Linked DNA regions of Homo sapiens. The protein of the gene in region 1 purifies or fractionates together with the protein of each later gene. This does not show direct contact. Each region holds a gene or a part of one and is shown in the gene's direction. Other genes may lie near its edges. The genes, in order: SLC68A1 and GNA11.

Region 1 (3,384 bases):
GAAATTAAGGTGATGTGAGATGGCGTGACCAAGAAGCTATGTAGTATTATCAGGGAAGGCCTCTCCGAGAAGGTGCCCCTCAGGATGTGAGCTGAATGGCAAGGATTTGTCTAGAAAAGGTCTCAGTGAATCGCAGGCAGAGGGAACAGCAGGCGCAAAGGCCCAGGGTGTCAGGGGTGATTAGGAAATGTGGCTGGAAAAGCGAAGAGGACTTTGTTGATCAGGGCAGTGTTGGAAGCAAGCTGTTGGGAGGGTTTTATTTTTATTTATTTATTTATTTACTTTTTGAGATAGGGTCTCCCTGTCACCCAGGCTGGAGTGCAGTGGCACGATCTTGGCTCACTGCAGCCTCGACCTCCCAGGTTCAAGTGAGCCTGCCACCTAGCCTCCCAAGTAGTTGGGACCACAGGCGTATGCCACCATGCCTGGGTAACTTTTTGTATTTTATGTAGAGATGGGGTTTTGCCAGGTTGCCCAGGCTGGTCTCAAACTCCTGAGCTCAGGTGATCCACCCACCTTGGCCTCCCAAAGTGCTGGGATTACAGGCATGAGCCACCACGCCCGGCCAGGGAGGGTTTTAAACAGGGAAGTGACGTAGTGTGATTGACTTTTTAACAAAATTCACTCTGGGCTGGGTGAGGTGGCTCACACCTGTAATCCCAGCACTTTGGGAGGCTGAGGAGGGCAGATCACCTGAGGTCAGGAGTTTGAGACCAGCCTGGTCAACATATAGTGAAACCCCCGCCTCTACTAAAAAATACAAAAATTAGCTGGGTGTGGTGGCGCATGCCTGTAGCCCCAGCTATTTGGGAAGCTGAGGCAGGAGAATCGCTTGAAACTGGGAGGCCGAGGTTGCAGTGAGTGGAGATCGTGCTACTTCACTCCAGCCTAGGTGACAGAGCGAGACTCCCTCTTTCCAAAAAAAAAAAAGTTCACTCTGGCTGCCATATGGACAGCAGATCATAGGGAGGCCAGAATGGGGACAGCAGGGACATCTTTGGGAGACTGGCAGAGGCCGTGGAGACTTGGGCCAGGGTGGTGGCAGGTGGGATACGTTTTGGAGTTGGGGGGAGATGAAGGATTGGGTGTTGGGGAGTGATGGCGTGAAACCAACCAGGGAACTGAGGAGGACTTTGAGGTTTTGGGCCTGAGTTATTGGGTGGATGGTGGTGCCCGTCACTGAGATGGGAAGAGTAGGAGAGGAGTGGGTTTGGAGGAATCAGGAGTTGTGGTCTGGACACGTCCATGTGGTGTCTGAGATGTCACACCATAGACTTGGAGGGCACCAAGGCTTGGAGGACAGTGGGCTGACCATGGTCTTTCTGTGCTCTCTTGTCCTAGGTCATGACCTCTTCCAGCAGTCCCTCATAACCCCTGTGGGGAGTGCCCATCCCTGGCCAGAGCCCCCAGCTCCAGCCCCTGCACAGGCCCCGACGCTCCGCCAGGGCTGCTTCTACCTGCTGGTGCTGGTGCCCATCACCTGTGCTCTGCTGCAGCTCTTCACCTGGTCCCAGTTCACGCTGCATGGGAGACGCCTGCACATGGTCAAGGCCCAGCGCCAGAACCTGTCACAGGCCCAAACCCTGGATGTTAAGATGGTGTGAGAGCTGTGGCAAGGTCACCCCACTGAGGATGCTGCTGGCAGCCTGGGGAAGGAGCCAGTTTTTTTTGGTTTTTTTTTTAAGGATTTCATAGTTTTTTTTTTTTTTTTTTGGAGCTGTTGCCCAAAAAAATGGATCTGTTGCAGTGGTGCAATCTGGGCTCACTGAAACCACCACCCAGGTTCAAGCAATTATCCTGCCTCAGCCTCCCGAGTAGGTGGGATTATAGGAGCGTGCCACCATGCCCGGCTACTTTTTGTATTTTTAGTAGAGACAGGGTTTCATCATGTTGGCCAGGCTAGTCTCAAACCCCTGACCTTAGGTGATCAGCCCGCCTCGGCCTCCCAGAGTGCTGGGATTACAGGCGTGAGCCACTGTGGCCAACCTAATTTTTGTATTATTTAGTAGAGACAGGGTTTCACCACATTGGCCAGGCTGGTCTCGAACTCCTGACCTCAAGTGATCTGCCTGCCTTGGTCTCCCAAAGTGCTGGGAATACAGGCATGAGCCACCGCACTCGGCCAGGAGCTAGTTTTACCAGCACCCTGCTCCACTGCCTTCCTCTAGTGCAGCCTGGAAGACATGGCAGCGGGTAGCTCCTGGGGCTGAGCCAGAAGCATCACTGCAGTGAAAGTCTCTGCTTACCTGTCTGGCTCAGCTTGGGCAAGGGCTGGGCCATATGTGCTCAGGGACGTGCTTCTCTTGTAAGGCAGGAGGACAGAAGAGGACCAAGAAGGGAGGGGGCTGCCCTGTGGTGCACACAGGCCTGCCATGGGGCGTGGGAGCCCATCCCGCTGCCTGACTGGAGCTGGCCGCTGTGGTGGACTCAGGAACCACTTTTAATACTGCAACTGCTCCCTTTTGCCCAGTCAGGGAAAGCTGACTGTAAGTCCCACCTCCCACTCCGTCCACCCTTCTAGTGGTTTCTCTGAGAGGTTTCTCTGCTTCAGCTGTGCTTGAAGTGGCATGCCTCCTCTGCTGCAGGGCTCCCCCACCCCCACACGGCCTCTAAAGATGTTTATTTCCTTATAGACTGATTAAAGTCAGCCATTCTTTTTCCTCAAGTCTGTGCTGTGTGAGTGAGTGGTGGGTTGCTGGGGTTGAGAACCAGGATTCCTTACTGACTAGAAAAAGCCCCTGAGAGCATTTTTCTGAATAAGAGTGGTAGGTAGGCCGGGCGCAGTGGCTCATGCCTGTAATCCCAGCACTTTGGGAAGCCGAGGTGGGTGGATCACCTGAGGTCTGGAGTTTGAGACCAGCCTGAGCCAACATGGCAAAACCCCATCTCTACTAAAAATACAAAAATTAGCCAGGTGTAGTGGTGTGTGCCTGTAATCCCAGCTACTTGGGAGGCTGGGGCAGGAGAATCGCTTGAACCCAGGAGGAGGAGGTTGCATTGATCGCGCCACTGCATGCACTCCAACCTGGGCGACAGAATGAGACTCCATCTCAAAGAAAAAAAAAACCCACCTTGGTGGGTTACCAAGATGCCAGGGAGAAAAACATAGATTGGTAACTGCATAGGCACTCGGGCCCAAAATGACCATTAGGCCTCAGTGCATTTCCCATGTATCACTGCTGGACATGGTAGTCAAAGAGAGAGGAGCCTCTTTTAGGCCCGAGGTTCTCAGCCTTGGGGTCCCCTGGGGAACTTAAAAAATACTGACATCTCAGTTCCATTCCTTGGGATTCTGACTTAATGTGTCTGGGGTATGGCCTGGGCAGTAGGATTTTGAACATCTCTGTAGGTGATTTTATCATGCAGCTGGCACTGAAAACCATG
Region 2 (3,808 bases), on another chromosome or scaffold:
TCGGTTGCCACCTGCCTGTGGGCCTGTGCACTGGGCAGAAGGGGTCTCCGGGGACAGTGCGCAGCTGGCTCTCAGAAGCTTCTTTCTGAGTCCTGCCTGTGGCCTGGGCTGCCCTGGGCTGGCCAGCACGGGGCAGTGGGGGCACACTCTGGAGGGAGCCAGGGGCGAGTCACTTCCCTCTCCCGGCCTCAGTTTCCCCATCGGTCACGTGGGAAGGCTGTCCCTCCCCCTGTAGGATTGTGGAAGGATTAAATGAGCTGAGGCCAGTGCGGCAGACAGCGGGGAGGGAGCCCTCTTGTCCCCTGTGGCTGCCCTTCCTGCTGGCTGCTTTGCACCGAAAAGCTGCGGAGTAACCCTGGGCGGTGGTGCTCCCTGGATGGCGTCCACATGGGGACCCCAAGGCCTGGGAGGCTCCAGGAGGGACGGTGCTGGCCCAGGTTTCTGTCCCTGTCTGACCTCGGAGTTGGTGTTCTGGGTACCGCACCGTCCGGTGGCCCAGGCTCCGTTTTCTCTTCTGTCAAACTGTGTGGTCACCCTGATGTTTCAGGGGCCCTGCAGGGACGGAGTGGGGTGGGGGGCTGAAGGGTGTGGTCAAACTGGAGGGCGCTGTGTCTGTTGCTATTGTTAACCGTGTCCACACTGATGGGTGCTGGGCCCCGCCACCGAGCGGGACTTGTGCGGCCTGCAGAGATGTGGCTGTTCTGTTGCCTGTCTTAATCCCCAGGGACTGTGGGGCCAGGTCCACACTGTGGGATGAGTGCAGCCCCCACGGCTGTGGTGGGGCTGGGTCCACGCTGTGGGATGAATGCAGCCCCCAGGGACTGTGGGGCCGGGTCCACGCTGTGGGATGAATGAAGCAGCCTTTTCTCCAGCCACACTGGTTTGCTCGGCCTTAGTCCCACTGGATGCGGCGAGGGTTGACCGGTCAGGCCCTTGCTGGTGGCCTGGGTAGATGTCTGGAGAGGGGGCCTGGGCTCCGGACTCCTGCCCTTCCCCCATCAGTGATCCTATCCCACACTCTTTGGCGATGGTCAGTGAGCTGGGCAGGGGCGGGGGTCTGTCCCTGTCCCTCAGGTGGAGATGTCCAGGCCAGTGCCCACAACTGGGTTAGATGGGCTGCACAAGGCTGGGGACCAGTCTCCCAGGCTGTCGGGGGGCTTCAGTAATGGCTGTGGGAAGACCCAGCACGTGAGGAGACGGGAGCTTAGAAATTTTGTATGGCCAGGTGCGGTGGCTCATGCCTGTAATCCAAGTACTTTGAGAGGCCGAGTCAGGCAGATCACTCAAGTCCAGGAGTTCGAGACCAGCCTGGGCAACATGACGAGACCCCTGTCTCTACTAAAAATGCAAAAAATTAGCCAGACTTGGTGATGTGCACCTGTAGTCCCAGCTACCTGGGTGGCTAAGGTGGGAGGATCACTTGAGTCCAGGAGGCAGAGGTTGCAGTGAGCCGAGATTGCACCACTGCACTCCAGCCTGGGCGACCGAGGGAGAGGTTCTGTCTCAAAAACAAACAAACAAACAAAACAAAACAAACAAAAAAAAAACGTAGAAAACATGAGTGAGTGACACCATCCGCTTCCAGTGGAGGGGTGGGGTCACTCCCACTTGGGAGCCAGTCTGCACGGAAGCCTCAGTGGGAACAGAACAAGGTGGCATGGCCCCTGACCGGCGAGGGGCAGTTAGTATCTGCACCTTTGAGGCACCTGGGGACTCTGCTGCTGTGGAGATGGGATTGGGTTCCAGTCCAGAGGCTGTCCTGCCATCGCTGCCCCTGGCTGTCATGCCCCACCTGGGGTAGTGAGTTTCGGGGCAGCTCTTTCTTGAGCCTCAGCAGCGGGGTGAGCCGGGTGCACTTCCTCTCTCAGGGCGCCCCCTTGTCTTCTTGCCTCCCTGCCTGAGGGTGCGTGCTGGAGCAGAAGAGCACGTCCTGGGCTGCCTGCCGGGGATAAGCTGCGGAGCCAGGAGACCGAAGTCTCTTCAGGCCCTGCCATTAGGGGTCGTGTGACTTCAGGGAGGCAGCTTGTCCTCTCCGTGCCTCAGTTTCCCCTCCAGTCAATCAGGCGCTGAGGTGCTGTCTACCTCCTGGGGTTCTGAGACTGAAGCGAAGCAGGCATGAGGCCCCTTGTGAAGCTGGATGAGGGGCGTCCGTCCTCCGCTGCAGGAGGGCTGCCCCTCCTCGGGCCCCTGCGTCAGGTTGGTGCCTGGCTCTGACCCCACACCCACCAGTACAGCTCTTGGTCAGGGTTAGATTTCCTGGCTGTTTCCAAGAGCCAAGATCACAGGCACACGCATGCACACGCGTGGGCTGCCACCACCCGCCTTCTCATGGGTGCTGACAAACGGTCATGTGTATCCCCCAGGTGGGGCCCTGTGGCTCTGGCCTTGCTCCCGGTGTGTGCACTGGCCTGGCCTCCCCGCAGCCTGGTGGGGGCTTCCTGGCTTCTCGGCCCACATCTCACAGTCTTGGGCACTGTGGGGCTCGGCTCAGGCGTCGTAGACGGGAAGCAGCCTGGAACCCTGGAAGTCTGACTCCCAGGTGTCGGCTCCCAGGTCTCAGCCCTGCCACTGGGGTCATGGGTTACTTGAATCTTTATATACTTTTTATTTGTTATTTATTTATTTATTTATTTATTTTTGAGAGAGAGTCTCACTCTGTTGCCCAGGCTGGAGTGCAGTGGTGCAGTCTTGGCTCACTGCAACCTCTGCCTCCTGGTTCAAGTGATTCTCCTGCCTCAGCCTCCCGAGAAGCTGGGATTACAGGCGCATGCCACCACACCCGGCTAATTTTTGTATTTTTAGTGGAGATGTGGTTTCACTATGTTGGCCAGGCTGGTCTCCAACTTCTGACCTCAGGTGATCCGCTTGCCTTGGCCTCCCAAAGTGCTGGGATTACAGGCGTGAGCCACTGCGCCCGGCCTTGAATCTTTTTTTTTTTTTTTTTTTTTTTTTTTTTTTGAGACAAGGTCTCACTTGTCACCCAGGCTGGAGTGCAGTGGTAGAATGTTTGCTCACCTCTGTCTCTTGGGTTCAAGCGTTTCTCCTGCCTCAGCCTCCTGAGTAGCTGGGATTACAAGCGCCCACTGCCACACCCAGCTAATTTTTTTTTTTGTAAATTTTTTTTTTTTGAGACAAGAGTCTTGCTCTGTCGCCTAGGCTGGAGTGCAGTGGCACGATCTCAGCTCACCACAAGCTCCGCCTCCTGATTCACGCCATTCTCCTGCCTCAGCTTTCAGGCGCCTGCCACCATGCCCGGCTAATTTTTTGTAGTTTTAGTGGAGACGCGGTTTCACCGTGTTAGCCAGGATGGTCTCGATCTCCTGACCTCGTGATCCGCCCACCTTGGCCTCCCAAAGTGCCGGGATTACAGGTGTGAGCCACCATGCCTGGCCATTTTTGTAAATTTTTTGGTAGAGACGGGGTTTCACCATGTTGGCTAGGCTGGTCTTGAACTCCTGACCTCAAATGATCCACCTGCCTCGGCCTCAAAGTGCTGGGATTACAGGCGTGAGCCACCGCGCCCGGCTTTGAATCTTGAGCATCGGATGAGCCCCCAGCTCCTGCTGTCAGGGCTGCGCCCTCTTGTGGCGCTTGGAGCCTCCTTTTCTTCCGTTTTCCTTTCCCACCGGGGAAAAGGAAGCTGGGGCACGGACTTCGTTCCTCCTGGTTGGCCTCTCCAGATCTTGGCCAGCGGGTCCAGTCGGGAGGGTGGTTTTCTCCTCTGGAAGCTGGCTCAGTGGGAGCAGTGGGCGGACTCTGGCCCCTCCTAGTGGTGGCGTGCTGAGTGTACCTGAGGATGTACCTCCTG

Evidence for each region.
Region 2: the proteins of SLC68A1 (region 1) and GNA11 purify together in Homo sapiens (affinity purification with mass spectrometry, with the first as the bait; one large-scale study listed by BioGRID). This does not show direct contact.

Annotation. Positions count from the first base shown.
Region 1 is NC_000010.11:102,474,381-102,477,764, forward strand, and holds the end of SLC68A1 (transmembrane protein 180), read left to right. Parts: intron 1-1,341; coding exon 1,342-1,604; 3' UTR 1,605-2,665; downstream 2,666-3,384.
Region 2 is NC_000019.10:3,100,593-3,104,400, forward strand, and holds part of GNA11 (guanine nucleotide-binding protein subunit alpha-11), read left to right. Parts: intron 1-3,808. UniProt on the Homo sapiens protein: Guanine nucleotide-binding proteins (G proteins) function as transducers downstream of G protein-coupled receptors (GPCRs) in numerous signaling cascades.